Linked DNA regions of Homo sapiens: region 1 is linked to region 2. The links come from fine-mapping of genetic effects on plasma protein levels. A gene starts in region 2. The other region holds a variant in brackets. All regions are shown on one strand. Distances are between the middles of the regions.

Region 1 (8,344 bases), 330 kb before region 2:
GTTTTTTTGCTCCAGCAGCAGTGCCCTGAATTTTGTGAAGTTCCTGTTGCTTATACTTCCACAGTAGACATAGTTTATGTTCGTGGCTCCTCCCATCCTATTTTTAAGCTTGATTCTCCAGTTTCCCTCTTATTACCTAATCCATACATCCCTCTAACAAATTCCCCTTTTATAAGATCTTGGCCAGAGTTCATTTTTGTGGCTTTCCAAAGAGGAACCCTAACTGATACACCTCTCCTAAGAAATTTAAGCCAGATCCACATGGCTTCCCCTGATAGGAGGGAAGACAGTCATGATTATCTGGCAAATTGGGGCTGTTTCTAAGGATTGCTTGCGGTCATTTTAAATTGGAAAATATCCTGTGAGTAGATGACATAATCAGATGCAGTGGAGGTAGTGGTTAAGAACCAAGCTCCGGAGCCAGGCCTTGCGGGTTTAAACCTCACTTCCTCCACTGAATAGTTGTATAACCTTGGGCAAATTGCTTAAAAGTGAAATGGAGAAAGCAAGAAGCCATTCCTCCTGGGACTGCTACAAGAATGAATGAGCTGTACATGTGGAATTCATAGAGCAGAGCCTGACACCAGCAAGCATTTGTAAGCATGTAAAATGTGATTATTAAGACTTCTGAAAAAATAGGCTCTGTGAGTAAGCAAATAAGATTTTTAAAATAATGATTCAATAAACTTACCTGACATCCGTATACAGGTAATTGTATAGCATCCAAAGTAGTCACCCTGGGGCTACAAATATTCTCATGATGTTGCCATTATTCAAGGGTTGTTTTTTTTGTCAGAATTTCTCCTTTAGAATTTTATTTAGAATCTGCCATACATAGGTTTGATTGCCCTTGTTCCAGCAAAAAAGGGATTTAGTTACAAAATCCCATTGAAAATAATGATTAGAATATGTAGGCTCAGTGTGTGACCATTCTTCCTTCTGGTCACCCAAGCCTTGTGCTGCAGGTAACCACAGAGGTGAGGAACTATGAATCTTTGCCCCTGTGAGCCTCACTGGCTTGGGGAAACCAAGTCCTGTGGAACAACTCCAAGTGCTTGCCTGGAAAGACTCTAAGTCTCCTTAGCTGCCTTGACAAGGTATCAGATGGCTTCCAAGGAAACCTCAGTCCCAGAAAATTTTCTTGGCTCTATGTCCCATCTCACTTCTCCTAAAGGTCTTGATCAGTGAGTGCTGCTACTACCACCACCGCCTCTTGGTCCTTTGCCAAGGCTTGGGTGGGTTGCTCCCCAGTCCTGTCTGTAGTGCTTTCTTAAGCTCTCCAAAGGTATCCAGAGTCAGTCCATTCATCATAGCCCCTGACACATGTTAACTTGAATCAGTTCCCAGCAAACTGAATCTATGGGGTAGCTGAAGGTCCAACCAATGCCTTATTAAGTAAGGTTTAACCCTCTGCACTGTTCAGGATTTGAAGATAATTGAGAGTGAGAAAATTTAGCTCCCAACTGCCAATAAGAGCAGGAAATCAAAAAGCCCATGGGCTCCCATCCCAGTGCCAACTGATGCTGTGCTTTTTATTCAGGACTCCCCAGTGCTGACAGATGTCTTGGTTGAGGGGTAGTGGTGGTAGATATCATCAAGGCACAGGTGTATTTCAATGTATGTGTGAATCAAAGAAACAGTGTTTGAGTAGAAGCAGGCATTGATGATCCTGTTATGATCCCAAAAGATGGTCCAAGTGACCAAGTCCTATGGTGAACACAAGTAGTGGTACAGTCCTCCAGTAGTAACTACTTTTTAGGGATACTGGCTCACCAGTGATGCTGCCTTAGGAGGCCTCTGAGCCAAACCAGTCAGGCTCTTAGATGAAAGCTGCTTCAGTTCCTACAGCCTCAGAGACAGAGACAGATGATTGTCTCTGAAGCCAGTATGGACACAAAGTGCAGCTCAATGAGTGAGAAGAGGCTTGGGAATAGATGAGTGGTTCTGCTGCTCACCGCTGGGAAGCCTAAACTCCAGAGACAAGGGTTGGTGGGAGGAAAAGCAGGTTTATTTGGAGAATCAGCAAACCAAGAAGATGGTGGACTAACATCCTAAAGTATCATCTTAACTTGGTACAAATTTCAGGTTCTTTTCATGTTAAGGGCAGGGGGAAGAAGAGGGAGTTGTGATCAAGAGGTGACAAATGACTGCAGACATCTGAGCACCAGTGAGGGTTGGAGGAGGTTGGGAACTTCTTTGTCGTCAGTCAGGTCACAGTGTACCCGTATATCTTTAACAAAGTACAGTTAATTGTTTACCTACTTTCCCTCTAATTCCAGAGTTAGTTACAGAAACTCCGTGACTGCTGTTTTTGCATATTATCTCAGTGCTCTAAAATTATCCTAGCCTAGGTGCAGGAATGGGTAAATGCTCCTTAAATAAAAATGGAGTTAGTTATGTTAGTTCGTTTGCTGTTTCCCTGTTACAATAAAAGCCAGGGCTGTTCAGAAACACGGCTACAGTTGGGACTCTCCTGCGAAGACACAGGCTCCAGGGAGGTCATTCCCTACCTGTGCAGGGAAACAGTCCCTGAAATGAGGGCGGAAAACAATAGAGGAGGCCCATTCTCAAGGCCCTTCTGGATTAGTGACCCACAGCATGAGGCTCCATGGAGACACCTGCAGCACTTACAAGGCAGAGCCCAGTGGGTTTCAGTGACAACAGGTTGGTATAGGTCTCCTGCCACAATTTTGACACCGAGCTCCTAACACCATCTTGGCAGTCTCAGTGACCATTTCTTCAGCAATGTTGCTAAACTTAAGCTAGTTCAAATTAACACCCAATTTTTTATAATTTCTCCTTTCTCAACTACCAAATCTTGTTCACATATATAAATTGCTGACTGTATGTATTAATGCTTTATTTTGAATTCTACAAATAAATATTCTTAAGGAAGATTCATCTGTTTTCATTTCTCATATTGTCCTTGTTTTGTTTTCAAGGGGAGATCAGCCTTATAAAATGAACTTAAGAACTTTGTCTTTCTCTAGTCACTGGAACAGTCTGCATAAGCTAGTGAAGAATCTTTCTTCACAATTTGATGGGCTTAGTGTTGAAAGTTGTCTGATCCAGGTGAGTGACAGCGTGTGTGTGTGTGTGTGTGTGTGTGTGTGTGTCTGTTTTTGAAGACAAATTCAATTTCTCTAGTGTTAACAGGACTTTTCAGATTTTCCATATTTTCTTAAATCATTTCTGGTTCTCTACGTTTTTCTACAAGCTTACTGAACTATTTGCAAACTTTTTGGCATAAAGTTGGAAATATCTGTAATATCTTCTGTCTCTGGTTGTGATTCCTTTTTCATTCCTAATGTTAATAATCATTTGCCAGTAATAAATGCTTAATATCAATTATCATTGCTGTAAGTTTGTCTGTTTTGTTAGCCTCTTCAAAGAAGTGTTTTAATGTTCACTGATGGTCTATTTTTTTGCCTCCCATTTAATTAATTTCTGCTTTTATTTTCATTATTCCCTTTTTCTCTTGCTTTAAGGTTACTCTGCCATTCTTTTCCTAACTTCTCAGACTAAATAATTTCTTTTGTAATTTTATATCTTCTTTTGTCTAATAAATGTATTAAAGCCATAAATCTAAAGTATTGCAATAGCTAAATCCCATTATCTTTTATATGTAGTGTTTCGTTGTTATTCTCTTCTTAATATTTTGTAATTTTTATTATAATTTCTTCTTGATATACATTATTAATTGATAGCTATGAATTTTTTAAATTCCAAAACTATGGGGATTGTTTTTAGTATCAATTGCTAGTTTAAATTGCATTTCAGTCAAACAACAGGGCCTACAGCATATTAATTTTTAGGTAATATAACTTTTTTGTGGCTCAGATTTTTTTGTGTGTCATTCAGTAATATGTGTATTTTCTAACTAA[T/C]GGGATCAGGGCTCTATTATGTTCATCTTATTGTATTGCTCAAATTTTCTAAATCCTTAAACAAATTGTTTTATCAAATTTTGAGAACATATGATAAATTCTCCCATATTTAGTAAGAATATACCCATGAAATTCTTTAGGTATTTACTTCAGCTTTTTGAAAGACGATGTTCTTAGCCGCAGGTGGGGTCAGACTATTTTAACTTCCTGTTTTTATTTTATTGTTATATAGTCACTCTCTTATCCCTAACATTGCTTTTGCTGCTATGAAAAAGGTAGTATCAAGCTAATATTGATAATTAATATTAATAATAATGCTACTTTTTTGGTTTTTGACATGGAGTCTGGCTCTGTCACCCAAGCTGGAGTGCAGTGGTGCCATCTCTGCTCATTGCCACCTTTACCTCTCAAGTTCAAACAAGTCTCCTGCCTCAGCCTCCCAAGTAACTGGGATTACAGGTGTGTGCCCCCACCCCTGGCTAATTTTTTTTTTTTTTTTGTATTTTTAGTAGAAATGGGGTTTGGCCATGTTGGCCAGGCTCATCTTGAACTCTGACCTCAGGTGATCTGCCCGCCTTGGCCTCCCAAAGGATTACAGGTGTGAGCCACCACGCCAGGCCAATAATAATGCTACTTTTAATATTGCTATCACAACTTTTTGGGGAGGAGGGCTTGCATAGAAAACTCATTTCCTGGAGGCAGTGAGCATGGCTTGGGCTGCCAGCCTGCAAGCTCAGGACCCCTTTGCTTAGGCCAGCCCTCAGCGAGAGAAAGCAGAAGCATGCCCTGTAAGCTCTGTCTTGTCTCTCCTTGCCCTGCATGTGCTGGGCAGGGACAGGGGAGCCAAGACTTTGCTGATGAGCCCTTCTTCATGGGCTGCTGACATCTGCAGATGCTGCTAAGCAGAAGTGCCCTGTTCTGAGCAGCTAATCCTGCTCCTCCTACCATACTGCAGCTCCTCTCCACACCAGGTAAGTCTTATCCCGCTCTCTCACCGAGGACAAGGAGCACATCCCAGCATCTAGCACATTCGATGGCTATCAAGACACTTCAGCCTAAGCTCAGCTCTGCCATGAAGAAGCTCGGAGACCGGGTAAATCTACTTGGCCTGTCTGGGTGTATGTTTCTTCTATAAAGTAAGGGAGGTACATGTTTTTAATGTTTGAGGTCATGGCTAGCTAAGGGAAATGCTATGAATCTATCTAATTGTAGTAAGTGATCTTGTTTTTAACATATTATGAATTTCAAATCCTAAGTGCTTCACTGAGAAATTAGACAAATCCTCAGAATTAGGCACAAGAAGGCTTGGTGATGGGGAATGGCAGGAAAAGCCATGAATAATAGGAAATATTTATTAGATTGCAGCCTGGTAGAGCAGGAGCAACTTTCTTTAAAAAAAATCAAACTAATGATGACTTTTTTTTTCCAGAAAATTCCCCTTTTTCCTAAACTTTCACATATCTGGGGAAAATGACAATTTTCAAAACAAAGCAGGTGTAAGTACGGCTAAAACATGTTTAATACATAATATCCCTTTGAATTTTATCTTGGTCCTCCAAAAATCTAACAAAGTAACTTTCTCCTAAGGAAAAAAGACTAAACATATAGATATTATAGAGAGCTTTTCCTAGGAAATCTTACCTATACCAGTGTTTTCACCCTAAAGTGCTACATAATTTGGGAAAATCCCGATACTTATCAAAATTCAGAAACAAAAAGCACAAATCTGAGATCCCAGGCACAGCTCTCCTGCTTCTTTATCGTCAAGCCTATGAATTTCACTAGGTGGCAGCATGTAATAACAAATAATGACATTATAAGGTTATAAATAACGAAACTGTAACAAGCTACTTTAATAGCAAATGTCAGCCTCACAAAGATTCTAAAATAATAGAAAGAGTTCTAGTCCTTTTTCAGCATAACTCTAAAGTCCTTTAGAGGACTTTTTTTCTCCACACATTCACACATTCTATTTTAAGTAAAAATTATGGAACTAATGGCTAGAGGGGTTAGGATTCTCTTTGACATCTTTTCTTCATTAATATTTAGATAAAGGAAATGAAAACTCACCTCTAAGCCAAAAGAAGTTTTAAAAGATACCAACAATTAGTTACAATTAAGTCTTTCTCAAGGTCAGGATTTTATTTGGCAATTAGTGATCTAGAAAAGAATGCCAAAATTTTTGACGCAGAAAAAAACATACCAATGCAACTGAAATATTTAAGGCCATAGGTAGCATTCTACAAATTCAGGGCATGAACATGTTTTGCCTGGCCTGAACTCTGTGTGTGTGTGTGTGTGTGTGTGTGTGTGCGCGTGTGTGTATGCAGAATTGTCCATATTCAAATTTGAACTTTTTTACAGAAAACTGAGATAAATTAAGGAAGAGCTAAGTTGATAGAGAGTCACTTTCATAGATTGGAAGACTCAATATTATTAAGATGTCAATTCTACCCAATCAAATTTCCAGCAAGTATTTTTGGTAAAGATTGACAAGTTAATTCAATAATTTGCAAATCCAAATGACATAGAATTGCCAAAACTATTCTGAAACAAAAAAAGAATAAAGTTTAAGAACTTAAACTACCTCATTTCGAAACTTATTTGAAAGCTGCAGTAACTAAGACAGTATGACAGAGATACAAAGAGAGACATACACATCAGTGGAAGACAAGACAATGAAGAGTTTAGAAATATGCAAACATATACGGCCCATTAATTTTTGCTGAAAATGCCAAAATAAACAAATGGAAATACAGTAGTCTTTTTAGTAAATGGTGTTGAAAAACTAACTATCCATATGCAAAAAACGAACTATCCATACGCAAAAAAAAAAACTCAATTTTTAATTCACACCACACATTAAAATTCATTTAAAATGGGTAAGACCTAAGTGAAAAAGCCATAACTACAAAGCTTCTACAAGGCGGAAAACAATTTACATTAAAAAGCACAAAAGAAAATCCTCACAACTTTGGGGACAGGCAAAGATTTCTTAGATAGAATAGAAAGGACACACCATAAAAGAAAAATTGATAGATTTGACCTTATCAAAACTTGTCCTTTCTAAAAGGCACTATTAAGAAAATGCAAAGACAAGCCACAGATTGTGAGAAAATGTTCACAATCCATATATATGAGAAAACACTTGTATTCAGAATATATAAAGAATTCTTCCAACTCAATAACAAGAAGACAAACAAACATCCAGTAAAAAATGGACAAAAGACTTGGATGCTTTATTGGCTAATAAACTCATGAAAAGATAGGCAACATCTTTAGTCTTTAGACCAATGCAAATTTAAACCAAAATAAAATATAACTGCACTTATAGTTTAGAATGGATAAAATTTAATAGACTGGCAATATCTAGTATTAATGAAGGTAAGAAGCAACATTGCTGGTGAAAAACCATCTGACAATTTCTTATAAAGTTAAATGTATATTTACCATCTCACTATTCAGTATATACCCAGAAGAAATCAAAGCATATGTATATGCACATGAATCTCCATAGTAGCTTTGTTCATAACAGCCAACCATTGGAAACAACCCAAATGTGTGGTTTGATTGGATAAACAGATTGTGGTATATTTATAAATAGACTACCACTCAGAAATAAAAAGGAACAAATTACTGATAACAACATGAATGAATCTCAAAAATGCTTTGTTGAAGAGTCCGGACACAAAAGAGTGTATACTATCTGATACTATTCATATAAACAGTCAAAACTAATATGGCGCCTGGGCGCAGCAGCTCACACCTGTAATCCCAGCACTCTGGGAGGCTGAGGCGGGTGGATCACTTGAGGTCAGGAGTTCGAGACCAGCCTGGCAACATAGCGAAAACCCATCTCTACTGAAAATACAAAAATCATCATGACGTGGTGGCAGGCGCCTGTAATCCCAATTACTCAGGAGGCTGAGGCAGGGGAATCGCTTGAACTCGGAAGGCAGAGGTGGCAGTGAGCTGAGATCGCACCATTGCACTCTCCAGCCTGGATGACAGAGAGAGACTCTGTCTCAAAAAAAAAAAAAAAAAAAAAAAAAAAGAAAACCCTATTGTGGCTTTCTGCATTCGAACAAGCACAACTAGTCTATATTAAGAGATTAAGAGCAAGCAGATCTATGGTTTCTTGAGATTGGAGATGGGGGACTTTGAATGCAAAGGGGCATGAGGTAACTTTTTAGGGTGATGGAATCAAACTTATGTCTTGATTGGGCTGGCAATTACATAAGTGAATATATATATATATATTTTGAAACTTATCGAACTGTGCATCTAAAAGAAGGGGGGGAAGTATACAAATTATCCCACAATAAAGATAATCAAATTAGTGGGCCCAGCAGTGTGGGGAGGGGAAATATAAGAAAGAGTAATTGCACCAACGCTGCTGTTTTCTGCAGCTTCCCTTTGATGTGTGACACGTGTGCTTCCGGTAGCCATGCTTCATGCTT
Region 2 (8,344 bases):
AGAGTAAAATCAGCTTTTGAACTTCAAATCCCCAGCTGGTGACCAGACATGCATTCAATTACCAGCCTTAGCCAGTGTGTTTTTACCAATTGTGTTCAGACTTCCTTTCACAATCCCAAAGAAAGTATTCATCATTTAAGTTTTGTGTGATCATGAGAAGAATAACATGATCCCAATCTAACCAGAACATGCCAGACAATTTCCAAATTAAGGACATTCTCAAAACACCTAACCAATTCTTCTGCAAACTGCCATAGTCATCAAAAACAAGCAACATCTGAGAAACAGCCATAGCCAAGAAGAACCCAAAAAGTCACGATCACTAAATGCAACCTGGTGTCATGTTGGGATCCTGGACAGAAAAAGAACATTAGGAGCTGAAAATTTAATTCTACACCAAACCTGCACATGCATGTTTATAGCAGCTCTATTCATCACTGTCAAAATTTAGAGGCATCCAAAATGTCCTAGATGAATGAACAAATGAACTCGGGTACATCCAATCAATGGAATTTTAGTAGTAGGTGAATGAATAAAGGGACTTGGATATATCCAATCTTTGGAATTTTATCAGCACTTAAGAGAAATGTGCTATCAAGTTATGAAAAACATAGAGAAACCTTAAGTGCATATTACTAGGTAAAAAAGTCAATATAAAAGGTTACATATTGTGTGATTCCAACTATTTGAAATTCTTAAAAAGATAAAACTGAGGAGACAGCAAAAGGATGAGCATTGCCTGGGGTTGTAGGGGATGGAGTGGTAAGTAGGCAGAACACAGAGAATTTTTAGGGCAGCTAAACTATTCTGTATGATACCATAGTGGTGGGTACCGTCATTATACCTTTCTTAGTTAATTGATATTATGCATGTCATTATACATTTCTCAAAACCCAAAGAATGTACAGCACTTAGAGTGAACCTAATGGAAATGATGGACATTGGGTGATAATGACATGTTAATGTAGGTTTATTACTTACAGCAAATGTACTACCCTGGTTCATGATGTTGAAGGTAGGGGAGACTGTGCCTGCGTGTGGGGAGGGGTATATGGGACTTTTGATACTTTCCACTCAATTGTGCTATGAGCATAAAACTACTCTAAAAAATAAAGTCTGTCAATAATAATAATAATAATAATAAAAACTAGAACAACAGGTAAATCCTAAGCAAGTCTGAATAAAGTATGGACTTCAATTGACAATAATGTATCAATGTTTGTCAGTTGTGACAAACGTACCATAGTAATGTAACAGGTAAATAGGGAACCCAGGTGAGAATTGGAATGATAACTATCTTTGCAATTCTCTGTAAACCTAAAATTATTCTAAAACTTTAAAAAAAAATTTAAAGGGAAGGTATGAAGGGGCAAAGAGAGGAGAATTCCACAATTTATCAGTGTATGCGTACACTGCCTCATTTGTGTTTAGAATGATAGCAGCGGCCTCCAGATAATTCTTCTCTAATTGTGTGTCAGACACTGTGCTTAGTCCCCCTAAGCCTTGCCTCCACATCTGTCCCATGAGGACCTGGGCCGACTTTCCTCCTGGGGTTCTTGTGCAATGGGCCTTTATGTACTCATCCCCAAGAATTACAGAGCCCCTCAGTGCTGGGAGCATGGGGAGGTGGAGGGGCCTGAAGTTACTGGAACCTGCTATGCACTGCGTGGCTGGGGCTCCATGTCCTCTGCAGTCTCCCCAGAGCCACTGGAAAAGGACATCGTTTCCTTAGTTCATGGAGATACGAAGAAAGCTTGGGAAACAGCCTTAGCACAGTGCCTGGCACGCTGTAAGCTCATTGGAGGAAGTGTGCCATTTCTCCCCGTGGACATTCTTAAAGATGTGGGTGGCATGCAGGGCGTCAGGAGCCAATGACACCAACAGAGAGGGGCTCGCATTGGAGCCTGGCCTTGAAGGATGAGGCGGTGTGTGCCAGGCAGAGAAGGAAGGGAAGGGGATCCCAAGTGCAGGGAACAGCAGAGGCAAAGGCAGGAAGTGGGCGCATGCATGGAGTATCTGCAAATGGTGGGACAGGGTTTCAGTGTGGCCAGATTGCAGTGTGTGTGTGCATGTGTGTGTGTGTCTGTCTCTGTGTGTGTGTCAGTGTCACTGTGTGTGATTCTGTGTGTGTGTGCCTATGAGTATGTGTGTGAATGTGTCTAGGTGTCAGTATGTGTGTGTCTCTGTGTGTCTATGAGTGTGGTGTCTTTGAGTGTGTTTGTGTGTGTTTGAGTGTGTCAGTGTGTGTTTGTGTGTGTCTTTGTATGTGTGTCAGTGTGTATGTGTATTTATGTGTCTGCGTGTGAGTACCTGGAAATGAGGTTGGAAGGGCAGGATGAGCCAAGGAGGTGACTGCCCCACAGCCTGCTCTGATGCTGTGCTGCTGAGTCTAGAAGGGAAAGAGCAAAGCAGACGCTGGGATGGGAGTCACAGGAAGGGGAAGGGCCACAAGGAGCCAGTGGGGAATGTGCAGTGTTACCTGGCAAAGCTCAGAGAAGCACTTCCCAGAAAGACCCCGGAGTCCACATGTTTCCTTGTAAATATGTTTTGTGTTCCAACTGCAATCTGCCTCCAGAAAGAATCTGCCTGCCTCCCAAGGATCAAGTAGAATTTTCCATTTTGTAGGAGACTCCCCTTGTTGAGCAAAGCAGCTTTGCCTTGCCTATGTCCAAATAATCCTCCAAAATACCGCATGAGAGAGCCTGTTCGTGGAGGTCAGGGCCTCAGCGGGGTGTTTGTGAGGATAGTGAGGACGGACCCCTGGGTGAGGCAATTTTAGGAGAGAGGCACACAGCTTCAGAAATGGCTTCTTCCAACAGATTCATGCAGAGACTGAGCCTCTGAGTAAATTGGTCAACATCTATAGCTATGACCACGGAATTCTCAAACAGGTGGATCGTTCATAAAATCCAAACACAGTTACAAGTTTTGGCCTGCATAGTGTTGAGCTACAGCTTTATTTTTAGAAAATTTTAATTAGCTGCCAACCAATTTCATATAAACACATCTGGATTTGGGGATGTCATTTTAAAAATCAGACAGTGTGACAATACTGAGCCTAATCCCTGCATTTTCTCAGTCAATTGGAGATGAGTGTTGACCTCTATGGAGGCAGAGACTCTCTAGTTTGCCACAGTCCCCATCACTCCCTATTGCCTTATCTCAAACCCAAAAGTCAGTTGCCATTTAATATCACACTAAACAATAGTTTTCTTATGGCTGAATTAAGGAAAAGTGAACAATTTCTTCTTCTGAAAATCTATGAAAGGTGAGGTGATAATATATAATGAGGGCCACATCTTCCCTGTAGAAGTGAGTTTCTTTTTAAATGCTGCATATGTAAATAACAAATGTCTGTTTTCAAAGTATACAACTTAAGACCCTGTCATGAGGCAAAACGATTCTGCTCCACTTTATGTTAACAGCTTAGCCCAGTAAAAATTTAGTATGCAGCTATAAAGGAGACGTTGTTATTGTCAGCACACTGCAAATGGATGATGGGAGAGGCTAAGTGGTTTGGGCATAGCACTCAGCTAAACACATGCTGTGGCCAGGATTCCACCTGGGTCATTCTGGTGTGGGACTGTGCCTGTAGCAGGCAGGGCAGCCTGAGCTCTCTGAATGAGACCTGAAGGTAAGTATTTACAACAGTAATCTTATATTAAAAATTCCCTCTTTACCAGCCTCTCAGAGCCTGGTAGAATTCCCTGATAAAAAAGAGGGAATTTTTAATGTAAATTTCCCTGCCTCTAGAATTAGGGTATCCTCTGCTTATGTAGTAACTTCAGATGGAAAAAGGAACTCAGACACTACGAAAACTTCGGCAACTTCAGTCACCCATTCAACAAAGATTTATTGAGAGTGGCAGGCAGGAAGAGATCAGACCATGGATGTAGAGAATCTCACTTTTAATTTTGAGATGTTCCTTTTCCTGCCTCTGTGAACTTGGACAAGCTCTTACATATCTCCAGAACCAATTCCTGCTTTTGTAAAAGGGGAGGAATCATTGCACTCCCTACTAGAGCGGATGTGATGAGGGAAAAGGAGAACTCAGGTAAAATGGGCTCAGTAGTTTGGCAGCTCGGATCATGTCATTATAGTTATTTTACTCCTCCATAGACATCACTGCTGGGGTCCTCTCCCCATCAAGGAGGGTCACTGTGAGGCTGAGTTGTCCTCCTATCCTGGCCACAGGGTGGACAGGGAAGGGCCTAGAGGAAGCGTTTGATGGCATGCAGGTAACCCCCCTTTTCACTGGATTACATCCAGCACTTTCCCTGCAGGAACCGGCTCCCTCGGAGGGGCGTGGCTGGGAGGAGCTGTGAGTAACGTGCCACAGTGTTGTAAAAACCCAGTGAGTGTTATAAAAACCCAGTCAGCCTGGCTCCTGTTGAATAGTCTACCCCCCTTGCACTCTACCTGACACAGCTGCAGCCTGCAATTCACTCGCACTGCCTGGGATTGCACTGGATCCGTGTGCTCAGAACAAGGTAAGAGCCTCGCTCCTTTAACAGCTTTATTACCTGCTGCCACTTCTCACTCCACCAAGGGCCTGGAGTTCCTTGGGCCTGCATTCCATCATGGGCAGGTGGGGGCTGAGCCCCAGGGCCGTGAGAAATGACTGGGTGTTTTTCTGGCATATCCAGTCTCCTCTTCACCATTTATTGCTGTTCTCTGCCCTTTTGTGATTGTCTTTCTCCTTCTTAACCCTAGAAGATGGCCAACTTCTAGGGTAGAAATCAGATCAGGACCATTTCCTGGGTCTGCCTCTTTTTATAAAAAATTCTGTGTTTTGTTTTAAATGGAGCACAAATAATACAAATCATCTTATCATTATGTGTTATATGAAACTAAATTGTCATTGTTCATAGTTGTTTTTCTTATTCTTTGGCAATGTTTTTAAAGGGCAGAGTAAATGTGAAAAGCAAAAAGTGATCAACCAGGGGTGACAGAAAGGAATAAGGAGATTGATCTGGCTACCCATACCAGCTTTGAACTTGCCCACTATGAGATCCTGAGCAATTTACTTACCTGTCTGAGCCTTAAGAGTCAGAGCTGTCACCTGGGATGACATATTAATAGCTACCTGGAAGAGCTCTTGTGTGGATTTCACAAGGTGGGAATCAAACCCTAGACCAGTACTTAGCACACAGGAGGTGTCATATAGAAACTGACTTCTCTTCTTCTGTTAAGCATGGGTTTTTATTGTACACATGATCAGATTCATGCAGTTCAGTGTGACGTTGGTGTTCATCCTATTGATTCAATGATTTCTCATGATCCTTGTCTTCGATCTTGTAGTGTGAACTATCTGGTTGAAATTCACCTCTCTCCACCCTGATTCACTTTGCCCAGGCAAATCAGACAACCACCCCACCTCACACCTTTCCTTAAACTCTTACTTCCCCACAAAAAGCTCCCCCACCCCCACAACCCCACCCACCCCACCCAAACCCCAGGCATGTTCAACTCTGGGTCAACATCACCTTTCATGATGCTTACCACATCCTTTCTCATTTTGGGCATCTGTCATGTCTTTTCTCATTTTGGGCATCTGTGTCCATATGGAGTCATGAGATAGAAATCCAGCCCTTTGGAGCTGAAAGTTTGGAGCAGTAACTTGTTTCATATCAGAAACAGAGATGACGGGATAGATTCCCTGATCAATGCTATTTAAATTCTCCCAAAGAGTGGTCTCTAAGCTCTTTCAAATCTGAGGCTTTCTCAATCATGGTGATTTCTTCAACACCTAGTCTGGTGGGGGGCATATAGTAGGTGCTCAGTAAATGCTTGTTGAATGAGTGAATGAAAGAGTGAGGAGTGAGCAGATGCAGGAGTTAATGAGTGAATAAATGATAAATGAGAGTTCGTGAGGCTCCAAAGAGTGGTACTTTTGTGACACTCAAGACTCAAGTCAAGTGGAAATGTGAGTAGACAGGCTGTTTGTCTAGTGACTCCAGGAGCCAGAAGCGTTCTTGGTCTACTCTGAAATCATGTAGGCACCTGTCAGGGTAGGGGGAGGCCAGCGTGTAGTCCTGCACAGCTGAACTGCTGCCTGCCACTGACTCACTTGCCTTTTGTCAAACAGGTGAACGCCCAGCTGCAGCCATGAAGATCTGTAGCCTCACCCTGCTCTCCTTCCTCCTACTGGCTGCTCAGGTGCTCCTGGTGGAGGGGAAAAAAAAAGTGAAGAATGGACTTCACAGCAAAGTGGTCTCAGAACAAAAGGACACTCTGGGCAACACCCAGATTAAGCAGAAAAGCAGGCCCGGGAACAAAGGCAAGTTTGTCACCAAAGACCAAGCCAACTGCAGATGGGCTGCTACTGAGCAGGAGGAGGGCATCTCTCTCAAGGTTGAGTGCACTCAATTGGACCATGAATTTTCCTGTGTCTTTGCTGGCAATCCAACCTCATGCCTAAAGCTCAAGGATGAGAGAGTCTATTGGAAACAAGTTGCCCGGAATCTGCGCTCACAGAAAGACATCTGTAGATATTCCAAGACAGCTGTGAAAACCAGAGTGTGCAGAAAGGATTTTCCAGAATCCAGTCTTAAGCTAGTCAGCTCCACTCTATTTGGGAACACAAAGCCCAGGAAGGAGAAAACAGAGATGTCCCCCAGGGAGCACATCAAAGGCAAAGAGACCACCCCCTCTAGCCTAGCAGTGACCCAGACCATGGCCACCAAAGCTCCCGAGTGTGTGGAGGACCCAGATATGGCAAACCAGAGGAAGACTGCCCTGGAGTTCTGTGGAGAGACTTGGAGCTCTCTCTGCACATTCTTCCTCAGCATAGTGCAGGACACGTCATGCTAATGAGGTCAAAAGAGAACGGGTTCCCTTAAGAGATGTCATGTCGTAAGTCCCTCTGTATACTTTAAAGCTCTCTACAGTCCCCCCAAAATATGAACTTTTGTGCTTAGTGAGTGCAACGAAATATTTAAACAAGTTTTGTATTTTTTGCTTTTGTGTTTTGGAATTTGCCTTATTTTTCTTGGATGCGATGTTCAGAGGCTGTTTCCTGCAGCATGTATTTCCATGGCCCACACAGCTATGTGTTTGAGCAGCGAAGAGTCTTTGAGCTGAATGAGCCAGAGTGATAATTTCAGTGCAACGAACTTTCTGCTGAATTAATGGTAATAAAACTCTGGGTGTTTTTCAGAAATACATTCAAACATTGCTTGGTTTTCTCTGTGTCTGGTCCCAAATAAACTCATTAAGTAGTCCCCATATATCAATGGAAAAACAATCTAAACAGGAACTTCCAGTTCCCCACCCTTCGCAAGTTATCTCTTTCTGGAATCCTTCTTTATAATTGTATCCATTGGTCAGTGGTGTTTGGTGTTTATTGAAGTATAATAACTAGGATCCCTGTTTTCAGGTGGGACACCTGGTATATAATGTGATTAAATCATTTGTCAGGGACTCATAGATGGTAAGAGGGCCGGTAGGATTGGAACCCAGGAGCTCTGACAGCTGAGTCTACAGGGTTGAGGAACCTCCGCTACTGATTCATGTCAGAGCTGCCCATTCCCTCCCCCACCCGAAAGACCCCGGCCTTGCAAAGCTCAATTCTGGAGAAGAAATGAGTTTCATTCCTTCATTCTTCATTCTTGGAGAAGAAAGGCCTAGTTAAGTACAGTGGCCCAAGATAAGGGCTATAAAGGAAGGGGGAGAGGGCTACAAGGAAAACCAGAGAGAGAAGGCAGAAACTGCTGTAAGATCTGGGCTTGAGTGTAACAGGGGAGGGAATAGTGGAGCTGGATTTTGGAAAGAGTATCTGTGGGAATAAAATGGGGCAAAGTGGAGGCACTTTAGGCATTTGATAACATGAATGAAAGTGAATAGATGGGAAGTTTCAGATTCTGGGAGAGGTCAGGTGTCTGGGATCGGATGGGATGCAGCGATGAGACTGCCATTATTCATTTATATGTTAGTATGAAGGATCTGAAAGTTGTATTTTAAGAGTGGGGGAGAGAGGATGAACTGTCTCCAATGCCTTGTCACAATTCCACAACCAGGGAAAGGAGGAGCAGAAGCTGACGAAAGCACTGTTCTTTAGCATGTCTGATGGTGGCAGGGAGGAATGGCAGGTGGGGGGGAAGGAAAGCCTTTTACATTCACCAACCTACTGGGATGCACACTGAGGACGTCAGAGGCCAATCCACAGTGCCACAGCCTCAGAGTGACATTTGGATGTCATCATGATCATCAATAAAAAGAGCACTTATCTCTTACCTGCTATGAGCAAGCACTGTTCCAAGTTTTCCCATGGATAGTGGATTTATTCATTCACTCACTCACTCAACACATAACTTACAGAGCACTGACTCACTCCAGGTTGTGT

Which allele goes with the higher level. Alleles are on the strand shown, and positions count from the first base shown. The strength of an association depends on the size of the effect and on how common the allele is.
For the plasma level of the protein whose gene starts at base 4,001 in region 2, T is the low allele of the variant in region 1 and C is the other (weak association).

Evidence for each region. PIP is the chance, under the fine-mapping model, that this variant and not a neighbour inherited with it causes the effect. The UK Biobank Pharma Proteomics Project read protein levels with antibody pairs (Olink). The fine-mapping took linkage between variants from a reference panel, not from the people measured, so its PIPs are less certain.
Region 1: its variant is fine-mapped to the plasma level of the FGFBP1 protein (UK Biobank, PIP above 0.99).

The regions. Positions count from the first base shown.
Region 1 is chr4:16,262,346-16,270,689 of GRCh38, reverse strand. No RefSeq gene overlaps it. Among named protein-coding and RNA genes, the nearest start is that of TAPT1-AS1, 40 kb to the right of the region's middle. The variant T/C (reference allele first, on the strand shown) is at 3,885.
Region 2 is chr4:15,934,397-15,942,740 of GRCh38, reverse strand. FGFBP1 (fibroblast growth factor binding protein 1) reads left to right here and starts at 4,001. Exons shown (of 3, transcript NM_005130.5): 1 at 4,001-4,054; 2 at 4,270-4,490; 3 at 6,089-7,164. The coding sequence starts at 6,109. The coding sequence ends at 6,813.